7 linked regions of the Homo sapiens genome follow. The protein of the gene in region 7 purifies or fractionates together with the protein of the main gene of each other region. This does not show direct contact. Each region holds a gene or a part of one and is shown on either strand. Other genes may lie near its edges.

Region 1 (3,500 bases), on a different chromosome or scaffold from region 7:
AAACTTAACGTTAACTTTTCTTTCTCCATTAATTTTAGTTATGGTTTTGGTTTTTCATTCCACCAGACAAAAATGCAGGCCCAAGACATTGGTAAAATTCCACTTAAAATTCCTAATATTCTTTCATGCTAGTTCACAAATCCTAAGTATGGTTAATCACACAGTATTATTTAGTCCAACAAGAAACTTTCTGCAAAGACATTAATAAAACAGAAAGAATCATAGGATGTTAGAGCCAGTGGGACTTTGGACAGCGTATTATATTTTAATATTAGACCTTGACTTGTGTGAGGGTGGTAGGTAACCATTGCAGGCAGCCTGCTGGGCGTTGTGTGGGCTTCTGAGCTGGAGGCATTGCTGTTTATGTTGTTCAGAACCCTCTTGCTGTCATGTCCCCTGTGAGAAATCTCTCTGAATAGGGTTGCAAGAAGTATTTCTCTTTCCAGTGGAAATTGGTATGTGTCTTAAATCACGACCAGTCATATGAGTTATTTAATTATTTCTTTTTCATTTTTTAACCTTGGTTGCCTGTAAACTCAGCCCAATTTTTTACATTAAATTGCAGCCATAATGGTAAAAAAAAAAAAAAAAAGCTCTGATGTATCACTTATGATTGTACTTTGCAAATACTAATTCCTTTAAAACATAAATCCTTTATGAGGAAAATTAAGCTTATTTATTCATTTAACAAATGAAGAAACAAGGGATGCAGAGTTTCAGTAATTACTCCAGGGACATAAACTAGTAAGTGGTAGAGTTGGAAAATCTAGCTTCATAGCTGGAGCTCTTAATCTTAATATTTTACTGCTTTACAGTTATAATAAATCTTGTAGCTGGTAAATTTTTTTCTTTCATACCTTTTATACCTTCGTTTCCCAAGAATCTTCTCCCACCATTGCTATGTGGAAAGACTCAACATTTATTGATGGCAGATGCTGTTACAAGCCAAGGGAAGCATCATTGTGGGAATGGGATTGATCAGAAGTGACTTTACAGTGAAAGTCTATTAGGGCTGGGCATGGTGGCTCATTCCTGTAATCCCAGTGCTTTGGGAGGCTGAGGCAGGAGGATCACTTGAGCCCAGAGGGTTGAGGCTGCAGTGAGCTATGATCATGCCACTGCACTCTAGCCTGGGCGACAGAACAAGATCCTGTCTTAAAAAAAAAAAAAAAGTTTATCAGTGGTCAACAAACTGAAGACCAAGCTCACTTTTTTTGAAAATAGAGTTTTATTGAAACAAATCCATGCCTGTTTATTTACTTATTATGTATGGCTGCTTTCTCCCTACAGCAGCAGAGTGGAGTAGTTGCAACAGAGACAGTATGGCCCATAAAACTGAAACATTTGCTCTTTGGTCCTTTACAGAAAAAGTTTAACAACCTCTGATCTACGTGATAAAAAGTGACTGTCTACTAGGAGTGAGAACTCCTTGAAGGCAGAGATCTTGCTTGTTTTATTTATCTCTAGGAACATCTAGGAACTGGGTATGCGGCACATGTTCAATAGAATAGTTTTTGATAGTTGAACTCTGAGCAATTTTGATGAGCTGATTAACTGGGTATGGTTAATTATATAGACTAGAGCTTGGAGTAAGTATAGCTGAGAAATAAAGGAAAGATGAGTGAAAAATACATCAAGGGAAAGGGATATGAAGTGTCTGAGGTCTTAGGACATTGACTGCAGTTGGGCAGGGTTGGCACGGCATGGTTCCAAGTGACATGGTTTGTAGTGCAGTCTATGAAACGAGTGCCCTCTGGAGCTGTGCAGTTTGCAACCTTGAGCAATCTTGTGAGCCCGTACATAGGTGGCAATGTTGTTAGGGAAAGGAGAGGGACTAGTGGAAATATAAATGTCACTGATGTTGTGAAAGGCAAGGACGGGGAGCTAGTAAAGGATTCTAAGATAGGAACATGATCAGATCTTTGCCACTGGGTAGAGGTGTGAAGGGTAGATGATTAGAGAGAAGAGAGACTAAAGACAGGGAGATTTGGATTTAGGAGGCTAATATAGGAGTCACAGTGAGAGTCCACGATGGTCTGAGCAAATTCAGTGAAAGGGGTGAAGAAAGAAGAGACTCAGGTGGTTCCAGAGTTAATGCAGACAGTACTTGACTAGTTGGTTGTGAAAGACAAAGGCGAGGAGGACCTAGAATGCTCCCACCTCCATATATATTCAAACTTACCATACACGAAGTCATTGTAGCACCATAAAGAGAAAATAAAGGGAAACGAGATCAGGCCTAGGCCCTCTACTACCATGAAACAAAGTATTTTCATTTGTGAGTGTTTGAGTTATTTTATTGCTACGTAACAAATTGCCCCAGACTTCGTGGCTTAAAACAACAATTTTATTCTTTCTCATGATTCTGTGGCTCAGGAATTTAGACAGGACACAGTGGGGAATCTTGTCTCTGCGCCCCACAATGTCAGTTGGGCTGGAACAGGCAGTATGACTTCTTCACATATGCATCTGGTTCTGTGACCAGGCACTGGCGCCTGCAGCCCTGTTTACTTGGGTGTGGTTTATCTAAATGGACCCACTGAGGAGGGGAATAAAGGAAGCAAAGAGCCACTTGTCTGGCTCTGCTGGGGGCCTTCCAAGTTTTAAAGCTGTCTCTCATGCAGTCTCCTGCCTGAACCTGCCCCCGGGATGGAGCCATTGAATGTGTTTTTTTTCAAATGGGGAGACTGAGCCCCAGATGCAGCGACTAGGCCTTGCTCAGAGTGAGTGTCTGTTGGGGCTGGATCTTGAACAACAGCCTCCTGACCCTGGTCACATGTGTTAATCCCACATATTGACCGTAGGCTAACTCGAAGGGCTGGGGGCTGGCTGGCTGGGGTCACATGGACTCATATGTCCTCGACATTGCCTGGCTTCCTTGATTCTCCTTTATATAGTCTCAGGTTGTCCCCTTTCTATACGTGGCCTCTCTACATGGTCTTTAGAGCAGCATAGCCAGACTTTTTCCATGGCAGTTCAGGATCTCTCAAGAGCACAAAAGTGGGAACTACCAGACTTTCTTCAAACTTAGCCTGGAATCGCATGACCTGGAATTCCATCCAAGTCATAGGCCTCATCCAGATTGAAGGGCATGGACTATTAAGACCTACCTTTGGATGTGAGGAGCATCATGTGTCTGCTGGGAGGGGAGAAAGTGGAGCCATCTTTGGAGACCAGCTACCACTGTGAGGCAATAGATCTTTGAGAAGGCTAATCAGATACTTTAAGTTTTAATTCTAACTTGATCAAGTTCAGTTGGCTTAGTTCTCTACTGAGGATGCCTCATTGTATTTTGCTGCTGTAACTTCAGAATGAAAAAGCTCCATAAATATTGTGTTTGCATGTTCTGTTAGATTCATGTTAGGGCATTGATCTTAGTTTGTCCACAGTTCTGCATTTAAAGAACTCACAACTGTCAGGAATAAAATGAAAGTTCCTAATGAAGCAGTATGTTTTGTTTTATTCAAATATGAGAATTTCAAAACATCTAACCATTTTCC
Region 2 (3,500 bases), on a different chromosome or scaffold from region 7:
ACTTACTTGTTAAGAAGTGTATCTATAGAGGCAGCTACTTAGTGATTGTATACACATAAACACAGTCTTGGTGTAATTAACCGCCTTCTTCATGCCTAGAGGTTCATACTTCTGGTCATTTGCCATCTGTTTAAAAGTGCTAGGTGATACTCCCTTTCTAACATAAAAAGCTTGTTCTTTCAGAGCCTGGCAGTCCTGTCACAGCTGTATGCACCTAGAGGAAAACTTGTTTGGAAATTCCTTTCATTTCCTCCCCCTCTCCCTCCTTCCCTCTTTTTTTTTACTGAAACAGAAATTGATTGAGGAAGGTTCAGTCATTCCTTCAGGAACCAATGAGTTAGATCGGGTTGTTACTTTATGTATAATGAACGCTTCAAAAACTGGAGGCTGATTTAAAGATTGCAGAACTTGAGTCAGACTCATAAGCAGTACTGTGACATGAATTGGAGCCAGAACAGTTGCTGATATCAGAACCATCTCTTTCATTCTGTGACTTTGCTCTTGCCATGTTCTGACTGGGGTGAGCCGCTAGGATACAAATCACTATCACTGTCCATATTTGAGTCTGCAAATCTTGTCATTGTCTGCTTTAATGCTCTTTGAGTTGCAACAGGTGTATTATTTAAATGAGTATTTGAAATTCTGTGAACAGGAATTCTTTTGGTAGTGAAATAGGTGCTCACACCTGCTTGCTCAGAATGTGAAAATATTATTTCTGAGTTCTCTTTGTTCACTTTCTAAAGTGACTGTTGTTTGGTGTTGGAGATGTTAACTGGGTTCTATTAGGTGTGCTATATCTTGGCAAATATTCCCCATGATGAACTCTTCCTACTATCACAATCAGGACTATGACTGGATTTCTCAGTCTCAGTGCCCCAGATTCACCATTTCTGATTGTGTCTGGAGAACGTTTTCCTGGAAAGGCATTCCATGTTCCAAAAGCTACAAAAACATGCCACTTTGCAACTATGGGTCAGTTATTTGCTCTCTCAATGTCTCATGTTGCTGAGTTCTAGAAAATCTCTGTCTCATTTACCAGGGGTCATTCAAAAGTCTGAGATGTATATTATCATGAAATATTTGTGAAATTTCTCACCATGAATTTGGAGGGAACCTACTTTTATTTCTCGCTCTGGTTCTCCATTGGTCTGGGCTCCTGCTTCTCAGTCTTCTCTGACCTCTGGTAAGTGGAACTTTCATTAATACTTCTGTCGCACTTTGTACCTGACCTAGGTGGCCTTGCAAATGTTGACTCAGATTGTGGATTTTCCACTTTCCTCTGTTTTCCCTATTTTCTCCCCTGGGAAATCTTGCAGATGATGCATATTCATTTTCTGTATTCAGCCTTCCATTATTAAGGATAAAATTGATCCCTACATTGAATCTGAAATTACCACTATATGGATTACTCTGGCTCACTGCTGTCCAAGCTTGGTTTTCTCTTTGCTTACTTCCTGTCATATTTTCAGTTTGCCCAAAAGAGGTAAGCCACTTTATTACAGACCCATTACTAGTGCTAGACGTCATCCACCTCTGTTTTCACCTGATTCTTGTGGGGAATCCTCTTTAATTTGTTGTAACCTTCTCAGCAACTCTTCTGTACTTCACCTATAGTGCCTAGCAAATTGTTATCACTCATAAGCCTGTAATCTTCATCACTCAGGTTATTTGCAAGTAGAAAGCTTCTGGAACCATTTGTCCATCCGACTTCTGCACTGGGCCACATCCATCTTCTTCATTGTCAGAATCTGAGTTTTCTGTCTTGAAGAACAGCTGGAAAGTTGTCTGGCTGTTATGACACAGTATTGAAATACCAGACTGAGTTTCAGTTGTTTCTAGTTGTGTTCACTTTGTGCTTTCTCTGAATGGGAATATCTTCTTTCAGCAAAGTTCTTCATTGACCAGGAAACCAAAGATTGCTTCTTTTCCAAGTTTGTTTTGTTTTTAATCTTTTACCAATGTGCAGTATATCTTAAGAAGGGAAGAGTGCTCTTGGGAGTAGAAGAACATGCAAACATTCTTTTTTCTTTATTATTATTTGAGATGGAGTCCCTCTCGGTCACCCAGGCTGGAGCGCAGTGGCATGATCTTGGCTTACTGCAACCTCCGCCTCCCAGGTTCAAGCAATTCTCTTGCCTCAGCCTCCCAAGTAGCTGGGATTACAGGCACACCACCATTTCCAGCTTTTTTTTTTTTTTTTTTTTTGATATTTTTAGTAGAGATGGGGTTTCACCATGTTGGCCAGGCTGGTCTTGAACTCCTGACCTCAGGTGATCTGCTTGCCTTGGCCTCCCAAAGTGCTGGGATTACAGGCATGAGCCACTTGCCTGGCCCCAAAATTCTTATACTGTAAAGCCTTGTAGTGGTCCTTATTTTTTTTTTTTTGAGACGGAGTCTCGCTCTGTCACCCAGACTGGAGTGCAGTGGCACAATCTCGGCTCACTGCAACCTCTGCCTCCCGAGTTCAAGCCCTTCTTCTGCCTCAGCCTCCCAAGTACCTGGGATTACAGGCATGCACCACCATGCCCGGCTAATTTTATTTGTATTTTTAGTAGAGACGGGGTTTCTCCATGTTGGTCAGGCTGGCCTCGAACTCCTGACCTCAGGTGATCCACCCGCCTCGGCCTCCTAGAGTGCTGGGATTACAGGCGTGAGCCACCGAGCCCGGCCGGTCCTTATTTTATACAAGTGATTAAGCCAAAAATTTTCTTGAATTTCTGATACCAAAGAGCTTTAGGTAAATAACTTCACACTCTAATGCAATGTAATTCTTTCTTTGTGCTTTCAGATTTCCTTACACTTCCTGTCCAGTTCTCTCTTCTAAATCCAATATTACTCACTAGATAATTTCAGCCACTTAAATAAAAATATCTATTTTTAAGTCCTGGTTCAAGGGTTCCAAACTCACATAATTTCTCAACTTTTTGCCAGAAAGTTGAGCATTTATTCATACTTATTTTCAATCCTAAGTGTTCTCCCATGGGCAGCAGCACTTCTTGAGCTGTTTAGTACTGCCACACCTTTTTATGTCTTTACTATGTCAGCCTCTGATCATTTTCACTTTGAACTTCCTAAAGATCACAATTTCCTATCCCTTCAATCTGCGATCCCTCTTCTTCCTTTCTTACTAGATTATGGTGTAGTTTGTACTAGACTGACTCATTAAGACCTTGTACGCTTCCTGAGTCTGCTTATTACTGGCTTTGTAATCAAGGGTGAGTCTTTTTACTTCTCTAGGCTAGATTTTCTCATTTATGAAATGAGGACATTTTTCTAGATGCTGTAAAGCCCTTTCCAGCTGTAACATTCTATGAATCTGTAATTCCCTCGAGGAGCTAAGGAGGATTATGCTACTTTAATAAAAAGCTGCTTTGGTGACATTTGTTCGAGTAGAACAAGAGTGATGCTGCTCATTCTGACTTGAGCCAGATGTATTTCCTTTATAGCAGGAGTAATGGTCTAAGAAATACTCATTAGGAGAAAAAAATTCTGCTTCTAAA
Region 3 (3,500 bases), on a different chromosome or scaffold from region 7:
TGGGTGGAATCAGCAGAGGCATCAGGGGAGGCAGAGGCCTGCGGGAGGTGGGATTGAGGGAGGCTGACAGCTGGTTCTCTAGGTGCTGGAGGGCGAGGCTGTGGGCATCAAGAGCTTCGGCTACTCCCTGTCAGGCAGCTTGGATATGGATGGGAACCAATACCCTGACCTGCTGGTGGGCTCCCTGGCTGACACCGCAGTGCTCTTCAGGTGAGCCCCTCTCAACCTTTTCCCTCCCTGAGGCCGTCAGCCCCTCCCTGTGACTCTGACCCCGACCTCAGTGCCAAATCTAATGCTGAAGAGTGTTTCCCAGCCTCATGTTCTCATGTTTCTTGTGCTCTTGACTCCCCAATCCCAGGGCCAGACCCATCCTCCATGTCTCCCATGAGGTCTCTATTGCTCCACGAAGCATCGACCTGGAGCAGCCCAACTGTGCTGGCGGCCACTCGGTCTGGTGAGGTGGGATCGGGTGGCACCTGGACCCTGGCAGCTTCCCCTGCCCTCCCTTTGATCCTTTATCTCCCCAGTTTGGGGCTGGGGCTGTGACAGGATGTGACAGATGGGGTGGGGGTAGGGGCCTTGGCCCATCAGCCTCGTTTGGCTCAGGAGCCACCTTTGCCCCCGCAGTGTGGACCTAAGGGTCTGTTTCAGCTACATTGCAGTCCCCAGCAGCTATAGCCCTACTGTGGGTGAGTGCGGTCCCCCCTCTGTGGCTCGCCCTTTTGGGTTTCCCAGGGAGGGGGGTCACTTCGAGGTGGTAGAAGAGCACCCTTGGAATGGGGTGAGCTGGAGCAGCTCTGCAGCTCAGCAGCTCCTCCTTTCCCAACATGCCACAGCCCTGGACTATGTGTTAGATGCGGACACAGACCGGAGGCTCCGGGGCCAGGTTCCCCGTGTGACGTTCCTGAGCCGTAACCTGGAAGAACCCAAGCACCAGGCCTCGGGCACCGTGTGGCTGAAGCACCAGCATGACCGAGTCTGTGGAGACGCCATGTTCCAGCTCCAGGTGGACACTGACCCCTTGGCTTCTGAGGGTCATTTTCATGGCTCCATCTCTTTTCCCTGATTCCTCTTAGCTGCTTTTTCCCGAGCACACTCGTGCCTCCTTCTAAGACCTAGACACGTGGGAAACCTGTCTTCTGAGCTCACTTCCTCCTCATCTGCTGCCCTCTCCTGTCATTTCTGCACTCCCTGGAGGAGGAGGAGGTGCAAGGGGCTTCATGTCCCCTCTTCCAGCTGAATGGAGGAGGTGGCAGCTTTTATCATCACATCTGGTCCTCAAAGCCCTAAAGGTTTCCCCTGTCCCCTACCCCAGTCTTTCTCCCTCCTCCTTGCTCAGTTCTCCACCTCTCTCATTCATCTCCCTAATATTCTTTCCAAGTTTTAGAATTGGTCCTAGGTCTGGCTGGGGCACTGAGCAGGGCTGAGGCCTGGGGATTGTTCCAGTGAGGAATAGACCTTCCTCTTCCTAGGAAAATGTCAAAGACAAGCTTCGGGCCATTGTAGTGACCTTGTCCTACAGTCTCCAGACCCCTCGGCTCCGGCGACAGGCTCCTGGCCAGGGGCTGCCTCCAGTGGCCCCCATCCTCAATGCCCACCAGCCCAGCACCCAGCGGGCAGAGGTGAGCATGGGTTCTGGTTTAGCCCAGGGGGAGGAGCTGGGAGGGCAAAGATCATGGTCCCTCCCCAGTGACACCAATTCACAGCTCACAGAGCCCTTTCACGTATGCTACTCCAGTAATTCCTCATATCTCTAGGTGCCTAAATGACCATGTTCCTAGTCAAGGGGACAGAGCTCCTCTACTCCATGTAGTCATTCAGGGGGCTCAGGTTGATGGGATTCTGTAATCTTCAAATGCGGCCTTCAAGCTCTTGAAGTCACATTCATCCCATTCAGCTGGAAGGGAGAACATGAGGCCCCTTGCTTGCATGGTTTTTATGGCTGGCCCAGAAGTGGTGCCCTTGACATCTTTTCCCGTTCTAAATCCGGAACTCAGTTACATGCATGTGAGCTGGGGCAGTGTGGCCCAGCTCTTGACTTGCTGCTAGTCTCTACCATGGCATGGTAGTGCTCCCATCACTACCATGATGAGAGGACCCAGAGGAGAGGACCCAGTTCAGGATCACATGGCTAATAAGCAGCAGATCTGAGAGTTGAGGACAGGTTGTTTAATCCTGTGATACTCTAACCCACCATATGCCATGGTGACAGGTTTGCCCCCTGCCTTGCCCCCTAGGAATGCCCCTTATCTCATGTCTCTCCCCAGATCCACTTCCTGAAGCAAGGCTGTGGTGAAGACAAGATCTGCCAGAGCAATCTGCAGCTGGTCCGCGCCCGCTTCTGTACCCGGGTCAGCGACACGGAATTCCAACCTCTGCCCATGTGAGGGGGGCAGAGAGCAGGGTGGGGGTGGGAGGGCAAGAGTTCAAGGATTGAGAGAAAGCCCTCTCAGGAGGACCAGTCAGAGGGAAGGGCTGAGCCTGCAGAAAAGGCAGAAGGTGGAAGAGGACCTGCCGATGGACTTGGAGACTGAGATGAGGGTCAGTGATGGGGCCACGGGGGCTCCCATGGCAAGGAATAGCAATCCTTCACAGTACACTAATAATATGCAGTCTACATACATCTCATTGGTTAGTCTTCAAACCTCTGTGAGGTAGGAATTATATTAGTCTCATTTTATAGATGGAGAACTGAAGCCTAGAGAGGTTAAGTTACTTGGCCAAGGTAAGTAATGGTGGAGCTGAGATGAGAACGGAGGTCCCCTGACTCCCAGTCGTGTGTACAGAGGCCTGAGGCTTGGACGGGTGTGATGGGGACCTGGGGTGGGAAGAGAGGCTCAGGGAGTGAAGGCAGGTACTGGGGGAGCAGACTGGGCGGGGGAATGGTAGGGGGAGGTGTTCAGAACTTAGCAGGAGTGGGGTCTGACTCTCCAGGGATGTGGATGGAACAACAGCCCTGTTTGCACTGAGTGGGCAGCCAGTCATTGGCCTGGAGCTGATGGTCACCAACCTGCCATCGGACCCAGCCCAGCCCCAGGCTGATGGGGATGATGCCCATGAAGCCCAGCTCCTGGTCATGCTTCCTGACTCACTGCACTACTCAGGGGTCCGGGCCCTGGACCCTGCGGTGAGGACCTGGGGGCAGGATGGGGTGGGGTCTTGAGGGGCTCCAGTAACCCAGACTGACCTTGCCTTCTCTCCCATTCCAGGAGAAGCCACTCTGCCTGTCCAATGAGAATGCCTCCCATGTTGAGTGTGAGCTGGGGAACCCCATGAAGAGAGGTGCCCAGGTTGGCACATCTGCCCTTATCCCTACGTGAGTAGCCTCTCCATAAGCCCGTAGACCACCCCTGACTCTAATCTCTTTCCACCCTTGGCCTAGGTCACCTTCTACCTCATCCTTAGCACCTCCGGGATCAGCATTGAGACCACGGAACTGGAGGTAGAGCTGCTGTTGGCCACGTAAGCCAGGCGGGGCCGGAAGGGTGAGGTGGGGGTAG
Region 4 (3,500 bases), on a different chromosome or scaffold from region 7:
CACCACTATCTATCTCAGAACTTCTTCGTCTTCCCAAACTGAAACTCTGTACCCATTAAACAATAGTGCATCCTCTGTTTTCCCCTCCCTACAATTTATTTTTATTTGGGTTTGTACCAAACTGAAAATAGCTGCTTCTTCCTTACTTAGTTCAGATTAGCATTTCCATTTATTTAGCCGTGGTTTTGAGGATGCCATGACAGATGCCATCCTTCCTAGAGCTCTTTGGGGCTGTCAGGTATTTCAGTCAGGGTGAATTCGGGTTGATAACATTTTAAAATCTCACTTTATTCTGAGGTTCCTAGTGTCAGAGCCCACCGTATTTTTAGGGACTCCCAAGTTACAAACAAAAATATGGTGAGGAGGAATCACTGAAGTTTTAACACAAGAGACTTACATTTTGTTCAATTTCTATCTTTTAGTTTATTTCCTAAGCATAAAGAAATACTTTGAAAATTTTACATAGCATTATACATATTTAATTAAGCATGAGCACATCTTAAAACTTTAAATTTTAGATCAGATCTTTAATTCCTAGGATATTAAGAGGTACTGGCAATTTGGCCAGGTGTGGTGGTTCACGCCTATAATCCCAACACTTTGGGAGGGTGAAGTGGGCGAATTGCTAGAGCCCAGGAGGTGGAGGCTGCAATGGCCTGAGATCACGCCATCGTACTCCAGCCTGGATGATGAGAATGAAATCCTGTCTCAAAAAAAAAAAAAAAAAAAAAAAAAGAAGAAGAAGAAGTATTGGCAATCAGTGCTCCAGGAATAATTTCCTGACTTGAAATAAACCTACATGTAGACAAACTAATTAGGCCATTCCAAGAGTTGCTAGCATTGGTTTAATATGTTTTCAGAGCATTCCAGGAAGCAGTGTGGCCAGCATTGCATGTTTGATACTTCAGAAATGTATGACAGGTGTTTCTCTTACCCAGGTCTTCTGTTTTCTTAGTTTTGCTCATGTAAATATTTATGAACATCCTCATCTTTTTGAGGGAAGGGATTATAGATCATTCTAATTCCATTTTCTAGCATTTGGTACCATTCTAAGCACATGATAGGCACCCATTTGGAGCATTTTTGGCTTGACAGAATATGCATTTAGAATTGTTCAAATTAGAGGTGTCAGTGATGGGAATTAGAATACTATATAATTCTAAGTCATTTGACTTAAATACAAAAGAATGATTTTCCTTGGTGGGGAATGGTGAAGGGAGGCAGGAGTTAAGAAGAGGAGAAGAGATCCTAAGTCATTTATAAACTTCTCTGGAAAGACAGGTGTGTGAAGACTTTTTAAAAAGTCATTCACCAAATTGTGTGTGTGTGTGTGTGTGTGTGTGTTTTAAATAGACTTTATTTTTTAGAGCAGTTTTAGGTTCACAGCAAAATTGAATGCAAGGACAGAGATTTCCCATAAACCCCCTGCCCACACACATGCATAGCCTCCCTCATTATCAACATCCCCACCAGAGAGGTGTTTGTTCTAGTTGATGAACCTACACTGACACATCATTATCACCCAAAGTCCATAGTTCACGGCAGGGTTCACTGTCGGTGTACATTCTATGGGTTTGAGCAAATGTATAATGACATGTATCCACCATTATAGTAACATACAGAGTATTTTCAGTGCCCTGCAAATCCCCTGTTCTCCACCTATTCATCCCTCCCTCTCTGCATTTCCACCCCCAGCCCCTGGTAACCGCTGATCTTTTTACTGTCCCATAGTTTCGGACGATCTATTTTTCAGACAGACACAGAGCTGTCTTTCCCTTAGTTTCTATTCTATCATTTCTTTCTCCCCATCCATCATAAAAGGCTATGAGTTTTTTTTAAGTGTTGAACACCATCCTACTTGTCAAGTTAAAACATAAGCTCCTGGCTGGGTACAGTGGCTCATGCCTGTAATCTCAGCATTTTGGGAGGCTGTGGCAGAAGCATCACTTGAAGCCAGAAGTTTGAGACCAGCCTGGGCAACATAGCAAGACCCCATCCCTCCACACACAAACACACACACACACACACACACACACACACACACACACACACACACACAAACAAGCTCTTGCCAGAATTAGAGCTACAAATTGCCCTCAGGTTCCTAGAAGATCAGTCCTTCAATTAGATTCAGATTGAGATGCTTCCTCTTTTAAACAATGATTCCCTTTCTATCATGCCCAATAAGAAAACAAATAAAAATTAAACAATACTGCCTGTAATCTCAGCTACCCAGGAGGCAGAAGCAGAACTGCTTCAACCCGGCAAGCAGAAGTTGCAGTGAAGTGAGATCGCGCCACTGCACTCCAGCCTGGAAAACAGAGCAAGATTCTGTCTCAAAAACAAAACAATGTGATTTCCTCCTCTAAGTCCTGCACAGGGAAATGTTAAGAAATAGGTCCACCAGGAAAGAAGGAAGTAAGAATGTTTGACTAGATTGTCTTGGAAAAAATAGTTATACTTTCTTGCTTGTCTTCCTAACAGTTCTCCAAAGCTTCGTACCTTGGCCAGAGGCTTGTCTCCTGCGTACCTGAGGTTTGGTGGCACCAAGACAGACTTCCTAATTTTCGATCCCAAGAAGGAATCAACCTTTGAAGAGAGAAGTTACTGGCAATCTCAAGTCAACCAGGGTGAAAATTTTTAAAGATTCACTCTATATTTTAATTAACGTCAGTCCGTCATGAGAATGCTTTGAGAAAACTGTTATTTCTCACACCTAACAATTAATGAGATTAACTTCCTCTCCCCTCATCTGACCTGTGGAGGAATCTGAACAAGAGGAGGAGGCAGTGGGCAGGTTTCCTTATCATGATGTTTGTCATGTTCAGTGTGAGGCCTCACAAAAAAAAAAAAAAAAAAAAGGCGTCCTGGATATAACTGAGAGCTCATTGTACAGTAAATATTAATAAAACAGTGATTGTAGCTGAAGGATAGAACTGCTTGGAGGGAGCAAGTGGGTAGAATCGCGTCAAACTAAAGAGCATTTCTAGCCAAAGACACAATGATAGATTGAAGGATATTTATTCTAAATATAGAATATGGGTGAACGAGATCTGTGGACTTCTGGGCTCCAACGTTAGATTCTGATTTTAGCAAGCTTGTCAGGGGATTCTGATATTGAAAGGCTGTGGCCTTCACCTGAGAAACCTGCCCTAGGGGGCCATGAAAATTTGTCCTGTCTTTCAGAAGTGCTATCAGACATCAAATGGAAGTTAAATCGTATCTTAACAATTACTAGGATGGGCGCAGTGACTCACACCTGTAATCCCAACACTTTGGGAGGCTGAGGCAGGAGGATCACTTGAGCCCAGGAGTTCGGGACCAGCCTGGGCAACATAGAGAGACGTTGTCTCTATTTTTTAATAATTTAAAGAGAAAAAAATACTGAAAATATTGTATACACCACTGAATTATAATAATGTGTATATAACGTATATATTCATTATGAGGAATATTTGATTATTTCATATATTATATCTTTTCCTTCTGTTTATTTTATC
Region 5 (3,500 bases), on a different chromosome or scaffold from region 7:
ACCAATCCACCTCAGCACAGACCCTTTACGGGTGTTGGGCTGGGGGACGGTCAGGTCTTTCTCATCCCACGAGGCCATATTTCAGACTATCCCACGGGGAGAAACCTTGGACAATACTCTGTGTTCAAGGGCAGAGGTCCCTGCAGCTTTCTGCAGTGCATCGTGCCCCTGGTTTATTGAGACTAGAGACTGGCGATGACTTTTACCAAGTATACTGCTTGGAAACATTGTGTTAACAAGGCACTTCCTGCACAGCCCTAGATCCCTTAAACCTTGATTTCATACAACACAGGTTTTTGTGAGCTCCAGATTGGGTCAAAGTGGCTGGGTCAAAGCTACAAATTAACAACATCTCAGCAAAGCAATTGTTCAAAGTACAGGTCTTTTTCAAAATGGAGTCTCTTATGTCTTTCCTTTCTATATAGACACAGTAACAGTCTAATCTCTCTTTTCCCTACACATCTGGCTAATTTTTGTATTTTAAGTAGAGACGGGGTCTCGCCATGTTTGCCAGGCTGGACTCGAACTCCTGACCTCAAGTGATCCGCCCCCGCCCCCCCCCACCCCCAAAACTTTGGCCTCCCAAAGTGCTGGGATTACAGGTGCAAGCCCCCTCACCTGGCCGGGAATCTCATGCAGTGAGCATTTATAAAATAATGACTGTCACTTGCTGAAGGCGTTCCACACGCCAGACACTGGGTGGAGCCACTTATGGAGAACATGACAGAGGTCCCTTGGTGTGATGTGATGATGTCTGTGTTTCAGTTGGGGTATGTGAGTGAGCTCAGACAAGGTTGCCTGAGATCATTCAGTCAGGGGCACGTGGGGTGAGAGTGGGCCCACAGGACTGACCGTGCCGCTTCTCACCCTCAGGGACTATGTCACCGGTGGGGCTTGCCCCAGCAAGGCCACCATCCCTGGGAAGACGGTCATCGTGACGGGTGCCAACACAGGCATCGGGAAGCAGACCGCCTTGGAACTGGCCAGGAGAGGTAAAATCTCCCCTGCTTTGGCTCTCAGAGAGATATCTGTACATCCATGCTCACTGCAGCATTATTCACAGTCCGGAGGTGGAAGGAACCCAGGCACCCATCCACAGATGAACAGGGAAACAGAATGTGGCTTCTATAGACAGGGGCATATGATTCAGCCTTAAAAAGGAAGGGCATTCTGGCCGGGCGCGGTGGTGCACGCCTGTAATCAGTACTTTGGGAGGCCAAAGCTGGCGGATCACGAGGTCAGGAGTTCGAGACCAGCCTAACCAACATGGTGAAACCCCCTCTCTACTAAAAATACAAAAATTAGCCAGGAGTTGTGGTGGGCACCTGTAGTCCCAGCTGCTTGGGAGGCTGAAGCAGGAGAATCGCTTGAACCTGAGAGGCAGGGGTTGCAGTGAGCAGAGATGGCGCCACGGCACTCCAGCCTGGGTGACAGAGTGAGACTCAAAAACAAAACAAAACAAAGCAAAACAAAAAAAAGGGCATTGAAACAGATGAACCTTGAGGACATTCCATGAAGTGAAATAAGCCAGTCGACAGAAGAGCAAATACGGTATGATTCCACTTACAGGAGCTACCTACAGTTAAATTCATAGAGAAGTTGGAATGGTGCTTGCCAGGGGTCAGGAGGGGAGGGGAGAATGGGGAGTTACTGTTTAATGGAAACGGAAGTTTAGTTTGGCAAGATGAAACAATTTGAGAGATGGATGGTTGTAATGGTTGCACAACATTAGGAATTATTATTATTGTTTTTTTTTTTTTGAGATGGAGTTTTGCTCTTGTCGCCCAGGCTGGAGTGCAGTGGCATGATCTTGGCTCACTGCAACCTTCGCCTCCCGGGTTCAAGCAATTCTCCTGCCTCAGCCACCCGAGTAGCTGGGATTACAGGCATGCAACACCACACCCAGCTAAGTTTGTAATGTGTTGGCCAGGCTGGTCTTGAACTCCTGACCTCAGGTGATCCACCTGCCTTGGTCTCCCAAAGTGCTGGGATTACAGGTGTGAGCCACCATGCCCGGCCCAGCCATAAATGTTTTTAATACCAATGAACTGGACACTTAAAAATGGCTAAGAGGGCGGGTCTCGGTGGCTCACATCTATAATTCCAGCACTTTTGGAGGCTGAGGCAGGAGGATCACTTGAGGCCAGGGGTTCCAGACCAGCCTGGACACCATAGCAACACCCCCATCTCTACCAGAGTTAGCCAGGCATGCTGGCACAGGTGGTACCTATAGTCCCAGGTCACTTGAGCCTAGGAGTTCAAGGCTGAATGAGCTGTGATGGCGCCAGCACTCCAGCCGCGGCAGCAGAGTGAGACTGACTCAAAAAAAAAAAAATAATAATAAACAAAAAGAAAAGGGGGTTAAGATGATAAATTTTAAGTGATTTGTATTTTACCACAACAAAAAAAATTGGAGGCTGGGCATTGTGGCTTATTTGTAATCCCAGTACTTTGGGAGGCCGCGGGGTGGATCACCTGAGGTCAGAAGTTCAAGACTAGCTTGGCTAACATGGTGAAACCGCTGTCTCTACTAAAAATAAAAAAATAAAAAATTAGCTAGTTGTGGTAGGTGCCTGTAATCCCAGCTACTCGGGAGGCTGAGGCAGGAGAATTGCTTGAACCCAGGAGGTGGAGGTTGCAGTGAGCCGAGATTGCGCCACCGCACTCCAGCCTGGGTGACAGAGTGAGACTCCATCTAAAAAAAAAAAAAAAAGGAGAGGATGGGGAATCCTCTTGCCTTGGCCTCCCAAAGTGCTGGAATTACAGGTGTGAGCCACCGTGCCCGACCAATTCAGTGATGTTTAGTATAGTCACAGAATGATGCAACCATCTTTAAAATCAATCTTAGAACATCTGTTACCCTAGAAAGAAACCTGCTCACTGTAACTATCAAGCTGTAATTCCCTCTCCCCACCCCCTGCCCTAGAAAACCAAGAATCTATTTTCTTTCTCTATGGATTTGCCTATTCTGGGCGTTTCATAGGTGTGAAATCATATACATAGAATTCATGTAAATGGGATTGTACGCTGTGTGGTCTTTCGTGTCTGGTTTCTTTCCCCGAGCACAGTGTTTCTGACGGTCATCCTTGCTGTAGCATGAGCCAGTGCTTCACTCCTTTTCACGGCCGTCTAATATTCCATCTCTATGGATGGACCACATTTTGTTGTCCCTTCATCCACAGATGGGCATTTGGTTGTTTCTACCTTTTGGCTTTTGTGAAGAATGCCGCAGTGAACATTGGTGGATGTGTTTTTGTGTAGACGTATGTTTTCATGTCTCTGGGGTCAGTACCCAGGAGTGGATTATTAATTTAAATCTTTTTCCATCCTGGGTTTTCAGGAGGCAACATCATCCTGGCCTGCCGAGACATGGAGAAGTGTGAGGCGGCAGCAAAGGACATCCGCGGGGAGACCCTCAATCACCATGTCAACGCCCGGCACCTGGACTTGGCTTCCCTCAAGTCTATCCGAGAGTTTGCAGCAAAGATCATTGAAGGTAG
Region 6 (3,500 bases), on a different chromosome or scaffold from region 7:
AGGAAAGAGGATGTTAGCAATTGTTTTACCTGTCCTCATGACTTCCAGTACGAACATCCTTCATGGCAGCAAATCCGCAAGGCACTCTAGCATATTTATTTAAATTTTCAATAAGTGTCTTCCCTACTTCAAGGTAGTAAGGATCTCCTGTAGCCTATTAAAAAGGAGAATATATGTATAATATATATAGCTTATATATTACCACATATCCATTCATTTACCAAATATTTATTGAGTACCTACTAGGTGCCAGGCACTGTATCAGGCACTGAAGGACATTATATAGAACTGAGTTCTGAAAAAAAGCTATGAATCTGCTTTACAGAATTTCTTAAATACACAATTATAAAATTTAACTATATAACCTTAGTTTTTAAATTTCTAATGCTCAGAAAGGCTGCCTGAAGAAAGGCAAGAGACATGCTTTAGAAAGCAGCTCTAGAACATAAAATTTCTCTTTAAAGAAATGTTTACATAATATTTTTTAAAGAAAAAAACCTTGCATGTCAATTCTTGCATCATTCAATAATTCTATGGACTAGATGAATAAGAATCATGATATATCCAATCATTATAATATTAAAAGGGGACTCTGAAAACCCAATTACTATTATGAAAGAATGAGAGATCCAACAGAGAATGGAGGCTAAACTTTAAGTAAAATGGGGTATATTTTCTTACTTTATATAAGAAGTAGGTACTTTCTGCAAATTCTGGCCTTAAAGGATGTTGAGCCCAGTGTACTCTGAAATCTGTGGTAAATGCCTGAACAAAACAACATACAAAAGGCATAAAAAATGTGATTAAATACACAAGTAGTTCCAGAATATATAGAATATATATAAATAGGTAAAAGCAATTAAAATAGCAATCAGGACATTTTCATCAATAAAACATCAATTTTCATTGCTTAAAATAACAATTCATTTTGCAAAGGCTGCTATTTTTACCAATTAAATTGATTATTTTTTCAGTGATCATTCTGGCTATTAGAAAACTCAGAAAAACTCCATAATGAAACTCAGCAATGCCACTACATGGGTCCTGGTGGTAAACATAATTGTGTTTTCTTTTTATCCTTCCCTCTACTTTTTCCTCTGGATTATTACTCTCCTAGTTCTCATATTTATTTTTAAATTTTTTAAATCGACAAATAAAAGTGACATATATTTATGGTATATGACATGATGTTTTGATATATTTATACACTATGAAATGGCTAAATCAAGCTAATTAACATATGCATTATCTCACATAGTTCTCTTTTTTTGTGGTGAGAATACTTAAAATCTCTCTTAGCAATGTGTAAGCATACATATTTCATATTTTAGCTTATATTTTCTAAAAGCCTCAAATCCTTTGTGGAATAAGACAGAGCATTATTTAGAAATAAATAAAATTAGTCTATTTGAAATTTATTCAATAACATAATCAATTGGTTTTTAAAAGAAAATAAAAATAAAAGCAAACAAAAACTTTTATGGGAGCTAAATAAAAATTTCATTTGTGATAGATGTATTAATTGAAACCTCAGTTTATTCTGTATGGATATGAATTTTCTACAATGCACAGTCCTACTCACCCGAAGGCTAATAAAACTATACTTTCCAAAACAAACACTTTAGGAACCCTTCTAAGTTGGTAGAATGCTTAGATATCTCACAGAGGGTAGTCAATAAGCGGGGATAGAACAAGGCCATACACACATTTGGAAATTTTTAACGGTACATTTCTGGGAAGCCAAAAAGTATGCTATTAAAATCTTGTCATATTAAGCTAGCAAGAATATTTATTACTAATATGATGTATAAAAATCAGGAAGAATAATTCTCAATCAGCATGAGGAAGAGATGGCATTCTATACATTTCCAGAGGGCATGTGTGAACAACAAAAGTATATCTAATATATACTGTTTTCATAAGACAAGCTTTAGAAAATAAAAAGTGACAAAATCTCCCTAGCTGGTAGGTACATACAAGAGTTAGAATGAGAGAATATTACAATGGCATAAGTTAGGAAGAGTTGAGAAGAACTAAGCTGGGAATTTTTTTACATAAAATTTTAAAAATGTCAGCATTACCCTAAATCAGACTTCTCTTAACACACAAAGAAAAGCAAAAACATATATAATACTGTACAAACCAAAAATAAACTATTTAATAGGAAAAAAATAAAAAGAACCAACAAGCCTTGAAGATGACATTTTCTACCTTTATATTAGCAACTTATAGTGTATATGTGTACGTGTGTGTGTGTGTGTGTTTGTGTGTGTGTAAGATTATTCCAAAAATTATTTGCTTACCTCTGGTAGAAAATTGTGTTTTTTAATCACCTGATATAACATTTCATGAGTTTCAATAGCAGGTCTAATATCCCCCTTTAACACCTAGAAATCAACAACAATAAAATTACCTAATAAAATATGAGCTGATTTTATCTCTAATCATTACATAAACAGAAAAATGTATACAAATACAATTCTGAACTGCAACTATGTTTTGTAGTTCAGTTTTAAAGATCAAAAATGCGCCTAATTAACATCATCATCTTACATTCATATTAAGAAGACAGAATTCTTTATACCTGCAAGCCTGGGAAGAAGGCAAGCAAAGCATCCATCCAAGTCCGAGCATTCAGCATTGGTTTGTGGATATGCACATCAAGTAGAAGAGGTGGCTGGCTAATATACCTCATTATGGCATCATAGTGCTAAAAGATCACAACATGTGTTCATGAAAGTTAGATGAAAAAAGAGGTACTACTCTAAACACATTAAATAGCACTGTGAATAAATTAAACTAGAATTTATATATAAATTCACTAAATAACTACCAATTTATATAAATATTTAAGTTATTTTAGATGGAGATCTTTCTAAAATATATATGTACTCCTTTATGTCCTCTAACTCACATGCAGACTATTAAAGACTATCTGTAATATAGGACCTTCTGAGAAAAATGGAACTGAACATCTCTATGCCCTGTGGCGTTAGCCCGTGGTTGGTATGACTTTGCGGCCCACTGATGCTCATAGGTCCCCTTGTAATATAGCTATCAGCTTCTGTATTACAGAATTTGCTTTTTCCTGTATCTTGGAAGTTTGATCCCTTCTCGGCTAACAATATTTTGGTGCTCACTACTATCTAAACTAATGCAGCTAATCACTGCTGCCACTCTTATGGTTTGCTATCTCAGCTTATTATGGTCTTAGAAAACTCTTTTTCCCTTCTTTTGTCTTCTTCTCCTAGATATTTCTCAGCTTTGACAAAAGGTTGAGTTGTGATAACAAGCCAACAAAAATAGTTATTTGTCCCCATTTACCTCAAGAAATTCTTGTTATAATCTAATAAACAATCTATGTGATAATTTTAGAAAGTATTCAATTAATGACTTATTAACTTTTACTAATTTTTTTTTTGCAAATTTACCTATTATTTAATCACTATTATTGAATATTGGCCATAGGTTAAAGGCACTGCTCTAATCACTTTGAATGC
Region 7 (4,151 bases):
GGCAGCAGAGGGAGCACTCATGGAGACCATGGGTGTCCAGGGGAGGAAAGGTGCCTGAGGGGGCCAGCCCTTCAGGCCCGGCGGATTTTCATCTCAGTGCGTTTGAGGGAGTAGTAGAAGCCCTTCCACTGGGCCCAGTTGATGCCATTGGCATAAGAGAGGTGGGAGCCACCTAGGTAGAAGCCATTGAGGTTGGCAAAGTGGCAGCTGCGGAACCAGAAGGCTCCTGAGGAGAGAGCTGCGCAGTTCTGCACAAAGAGGTCCTGGTCCCGGTCGAAGGTAGAGAACTTCTGGCCACTGTGGTAGGACAGGGAGTCACCTGGCAGAGGAGAGAAGGGTTGGGGCTGCTGAGGCAGGGAACTGAGCCCCGAGCTGGCCGGGAGAGGGTGACAATGACGACTGTGAGAGATATCACGTGGCAGCCTGGCGGGATGGGGGCACCCTCCCTGAGCCAGATGTTGGGTTGATGTGCTTCTGCAATGAAGAGAAACAGCTGCTCCACCACAGAGTTGCCTGGAGCAGGGCCAGGATGGCTGCTCCCCAGGGCTGAGGCCCAAGCTGGTTTGAGCTTGTTTGGAGCCAGCTGTGGCCCTTCCAGATCCAGAAGGGTTGAAGGAGGGGCCTGAAGGAGGTTGGGGCTGACTGGGCAGGGCCAGCCCTGCCTTCTTTCCCCTCACAGCCCCTCCCAAAGCTAACAGCGGGTTATACCTGCCCCGCCATCCTCAAAGCCTGCCACAAAGAGGGTGTAGCCATCCTCCTCTGCGCTGACCGCGTTCGGGGAGATGGAGAAGTCAGCGTACTTGGCATAGGCCGTGTTGTTCTCAAAGTCCTCCAAGTCCACTCGCAGCTCATACTTCTGCTTCAGTGTCAGGAGGTGCATGTTCTGCAGCCCTGGGGAGGAGGGGCAGCTGGTCAACAAGGACCTGGCCCTGGGGCAGCCCCTCAGCCCACCTGGTCCCTGCCTTACCCAGCCAGTACTCTCCATCAGCACGGCCGAAGCCCAGCTTGTAGTCATTCCAGCCGCGGAAGAAACTTACTGAGCCATTGAATCTCTTCTGGAAAACCTGGAGCAGAGAAGATGAGACTGGATCATCAAGGGTCCAATGGGCAAGGTTCTGGTCCTGCCCTGCCCACCTCAAGCATGGACCCTGTGATGCTGTGGCCAGTTTGTTAAAGGACTGGGTTGGGGGTGGGGAGGGTGGTGGGAGTGGGGTTGCTAAAACAACGTCCACATTGGCACCAGGCCCCCTGTGGAGCAGTTGCCAGCACCCACCTGGGCTCTTCATACCCAGTTTCGTATAGAGGCAGGAAAGAGGCTAAGAGGGAGGCGTTCTAGAGTTCGAGTGCCTAGCTGTGGGATCTGGGCAAGTTACTTCACCTCTCTGGGCTTTAGTTCCTCACTACTTCCCAGGATTATTGTGAGGCTTATGTGCATTAACCTACCTCAGCTGGGCGCGGTGGCTCACGCCTGTTATCTCAGCACTTTGGGAGGCTGAGGCGGGCGGATCACCTGAGGTCAGGAGTTCAAGGCCAGCTTGGCCAACATGGTGAAACCTCATCTCTACTAAAAATAAAAAAATTAGCTGGGCATGGTGGCACATGCCTGTAATCCCAGCTACTCGGGAGCCTGAGGCAGGAGAATCTTTTGAACCTGGGAGGTGGAGTTTCCAGCAGTGAGCTGAGATGGAGCCACTGCACTCAAGCCTGGATGACAGAGTGAGGCTCCGCCTCAAAACAAACAAACAAACACCTACCTCAGGCACTTAGAATTAAGCGTTGGCAGCTGCTCAGAAGCTGTGCTGTGGGTATCATTATCCCCATTTTAAAGATGAAGAAACTGAGGTTCGCATATGTGAAGCCCAGGGTCACAGGGCTGGGATTAGAACCAGCTCTGGCCTCTGTTCCCTCCTCCCACTCACCGTCCACTTCCCGCCCTCGGTGGTCATGTCACAGAAGACGGGCACAGGCACACTGGGGCCCGAGGGGTAGATGAGGTACACGCCGTCTGACTGGTAGCCCTGGGCATAGATGTCGTCACAGTCCAGGGGTTGCTGAAGGCAAAACCTCTCCAGAGCTGGGGGTAGGGACATGGGGACAGTGAGGAGAGTGGGACTATGGCATCACTGACACCTCAGCACCCCAAGGTTTGCCTCAGTCCCTGGGGCTGGGGGACTTTGACACAAGGAGTCATGGAAGATTTCTTCAAGGGAGATGAGCAATGCTTATGTCATCCATCTGCCCCATTTTGTAAAGGAGGAACCTGAGTCCTGCAGAGCTGGGGCTCGGCCCTGACAGTCTGTTCTGACAGTCCAGCCTCTTCTTGCACAACCTGTGGGCCAGGCCGCGTCTGTGAGTGTGGGGCTGCTTACCATCTCCTCGGATCCCGGAGACCTGGGGGGCACACGGGGGCGTGGAGAGAAGCAGCAGCAGCGGCAGGGCCAGGAGTGCCTGGCGATGGGCAGACAGGGTCAGCACAGCCCCTTCCCAGCTCCAGAGATCCCCTGTTCTCTTTGCATTTGCCCCCACCATGCATGCACATACTGCCCTTGCCTGAATCCCTCTCCTGCTATTTGGCCCCTCTTCCCTGCCCCCCCACCCCGCCCGCCAAGTAACCCCACTCTCTGGGACGCTGTGTACCCTCATAGCTTACGAGTTTCAAGAGAACTCCTTGTGCCTTCATAGTGCCCTCTGTGGCCAGGGGCCTCTGGAGTGGGCTCAGTTCCCCCATGCTATGAGTCCCCCGACCCTGGGCCCCGTACCTTCATGCTGTCAGTTCTGCTCAGAGTGGCTGGGTGTCTGCGGCCCCAGACTGCAACCGCCCAGAGTTATGCGCTGGGCCCCCGCCAGCCGCCCCAGCCCCGCCCCCCTTCCCGTAGCTGCAGAACCCCCCTCTCCCCACCCCAGACAACCAGCATCAGTTTACACTATCAGGGGGCTGGGAGGTGGGGCTGGAGCCAGGGGACCACCTGTGTCTCATTAGTCCTGTCGGGCAAAGTACTGCAGACGTTAACTCCCTGCTGGCTCCAACTGTTCCCTGGATCCCACTCCATCCGCTATCCGCCATCTGCCACCCACCCTGCTAGACCTGTGGGCCCCCTGGCGCCCCCAGGCAGCCCCAGCCCGCCGCAGCCTGCCCCCTACTTCCTGATGGGCCCCCCTGCAGATGTCTGTTTATTCTTTCCCCTCCTTCCCTGGCCTGTGTTTCATCAGCCATTGAGGGGGAGGGCTGAGGGAGAGTGGGGGTGTCATATGCCTGGCTTCTGGGGACGGGAGGCCTGCTCTGGGGGAGCAGAAGGCTGAGGGGACAGTTTCAGAGCTCCTGATGTGGGAGCCTGGCTGGGGCTGGTGGGGGGACAGAGGCAGCAGTTTCTTGGCAGGCCTGGGACATTTCTGAGCCATGAGCACAAGGCTGCTGGCGTCCAACTGCTCTGTCTGCCCCAGCTCAGGCCAGGGCCCCTCTCCAGTCCCCCTCCCCAGCCCCCCTCACTCTGGCCACCTCAGGCCCACTCTTTTCCCCTCCCACAGTTCCCTGGCCCATCTGGCTCACATGCAATAGGTATGGGACCTCTTTTGTTTCTCCTCACTCCACCCCTCCTTTCTTCTTCCAAACCCTTCACTTTGGCTCCCACACCTCCCAGATTCATCTGAATCTCCCTACTTCTGGGCTCTCTCCTCCTATCCTTGGCACACTACCAGGAGAGTTGTTCTAGATGGCCTCTCAGATTATGTCACCCTGCTTAAAGCCTCATGGCTCCCTATTGCCTCAGGGCTGAGGCTAGGTTTCTCACCTTGGACATGAAAGGAATTTCAAGTCTGTCTCTGGCCTACCTTGAGGACCTTGTCCCTTATTGCTGTGACTCATAAACTACAGTGCAGCCACTCCAGACTTTTCACCATGGAGGTCCCCACTCTTTTGTGCTGCTCCTTGTGGTGCCCGCTCATCTGCCTCCTTTTGTTGGCCATAAGGGCCAGTGAGCAGGGTGTGTGTCTCATTTCTGCATGCTCAGTGCCCATCACAGAGCCTGGCACAGAGTAGGCTTGATATGTACATGCACAGTCACTTACGTATTTATATCTATATATAGATAAGATACTAGAGTCAGGGCCTTGCCCTGTTGCCCAAGTGCAATCATAGCTCACTGCAGCCTCAA

What was found.
Region 1: the proteins of MFAP4 (region 7) and FBN1 purify together in Homo sapiens (co-immunoprecipitation; one study listed by IntAct). This does not show direct contact.
Region 2: the proteins of MFAP4 (region 7) and LRIG2 purify together in Homo sapiens (affinity purification with mass spectrometry; one large-scale study listed by BioGRID and IntAct). This does not show direct contact.
Region 3: the proteins of MFAP4 (region 7) and ITGA7 purify together in Homo sapiens (co-immunoprecipitation; one large-scale study listed by IntAct). This does not show direct contact.
Region 4: the proteins of MFAP4 (region 7) and HPSE purify together in Homo sapiens (affinity purification with mass spectrometry; one large-scale study listed by BioGRID and IntAct). This does not show direct contact.
Region 5: the proteins of MFAP4 (region 7) and RDH13 purify together in Homo sapiens (affinity purification with mass spectrometry; one large-scale study listed by BioGRID and IntAct). This does not show direct contact.
Region 6: the proteins of MFAP4 (region 7) and EDEM3 purify together in Homo sapiens (affinity purification with mass spectrometry; one large-scale study listed by BioGRID and IntAct). This does not show direct contact.

The regions. Positions count from the first base shown.
Region 1 is NC_000015.10:48,635,710-48,639,209, reverse strand, and holds part of FBN1 (fibrillin-1 isoform a preproprotein), read left to right. Parts: intron 1-3,500.
Region 2 is NC_000001.11:113,125,198-113,128,697, forward strand, and holds part of LRIG2 (leucine-rich repeats and immunoglobulin-like domains protein 2 isoform 1 precursor), read left to right. Parts: 3' UTR 1-3,500.
Region 3 is NC_000012.12:55,694,405-55,697,904, reverse strand, and holds part of ITGA7 (integrin alpha-7 isoform 2 precursor), read left to right. Parts: intron 1-82; coding exon 83-210; intron 211-358; coding exon 359-454; intron 455-627; coding exon 628-689; intron 690-836; coding exon 837-1,006; intron 1,007-1,472; coding exon 1,473-1,622; intron 1,623-2,267; coding exon 2,268-2,383; intron 2,384-2,934; coding exon 2,935-3,127; intron 3,128-3,209; coding exon 3,210-3,290; intron 3,291-3,382; coding exon 3,383-3,462; intron 3,463-3,500. UniProt on the Homo sapiens protein: Integrin alpha-7/beta-1 is the primary laminin receptor on skeletal myoblasts and adult myofibers.
Region 4 is NC_000004.12:83,321,349-83,324,848, reverse strand, and holds part of HPSE (heparanase isoform 1 preproprotein), read left to right. Parts: intron 1-2,484; coding exon 2,485-2,630; intron 2,631-3,500. UniProt on the Homo sapiens protein: Endoglycosidase that cleaves heparan sulfate proteoglycans (HSPGs) into heparan sulfate side chains and core proteoglycans. Participates in extracellular matrix (ECM) degradation and remodeling.
Region 5 is NC_000019.10:55,056,649-55,060,148, reverse strand, and holds part of RDH13 (retinol dehydrogenase 13 isoform 1 precursor), read left to right. Parts: intron 1-873; coding exon 874-992; intron 993-3,340; coding exon 3,341-3,496; intron 3,497-3,500. UniProt on the Homo sapiens protein: Retinol dehydrogenase with a clear preference for NADP. Oxidizes all-trans-retinol, but seems to reduce all-trans-retinal with much higher efficiency. Has no activity toward steroids.
Region 6 is NC_000001.11:184,716,859-184,720,358, forward strand, and holds part of EDEM3 (ER degradation-enhancing alpha-mannosidase-like protein 3 isoform 2 precursor), read right to left. Parts: intron 2,711-3,500; coding exon 2,585-2,710; intron 2,388-2,584; coding exon 2,304-2,387; intron 766-2,303; coding exon 682-765; intron 155-681; coding exon 30-154; intron 1-29. UniProt on the Homo sapiens protein: Involved in endoplasmic reticulum-associated degradation (ERAD). Accelerates the glycoprotein ERAD by proteasomes, by catalyzing mannose trimming from Man8GlcNAc2 to Man7GlcNAc2 in the N-glycans.
Region 7 is NC_000017.11:19,384,391-19,388,541, forward strand, and holds the start of MFAP4 (microfibril-associated glycoprotein 4 isoform 2 precursor), read right to left. Parts: upstream 2,801-4,151; 5' UTR 2,766-2,800; coding exon 2,760-2,765; exon of another isoform or gene 2,729-2,759; coding exon of another isoform or gene 2,651-2,728; intron 2,449-2,650; coding exon 2,370-2,448; intron 2,075-2,369; coding exon 1,920-2,074; intron 1,065-1,919; coding exon 968-1,064; intron 892-967; coding exon 709-891; intron 320-708; coding exon 72-319; 3' UTR 1-71. UniProt on the Homo sapiens protein: Could be involved in calcium-dependent cell adhesion or intercellular interactions. May contribute to the elastic fiber assembly and/or maintenance.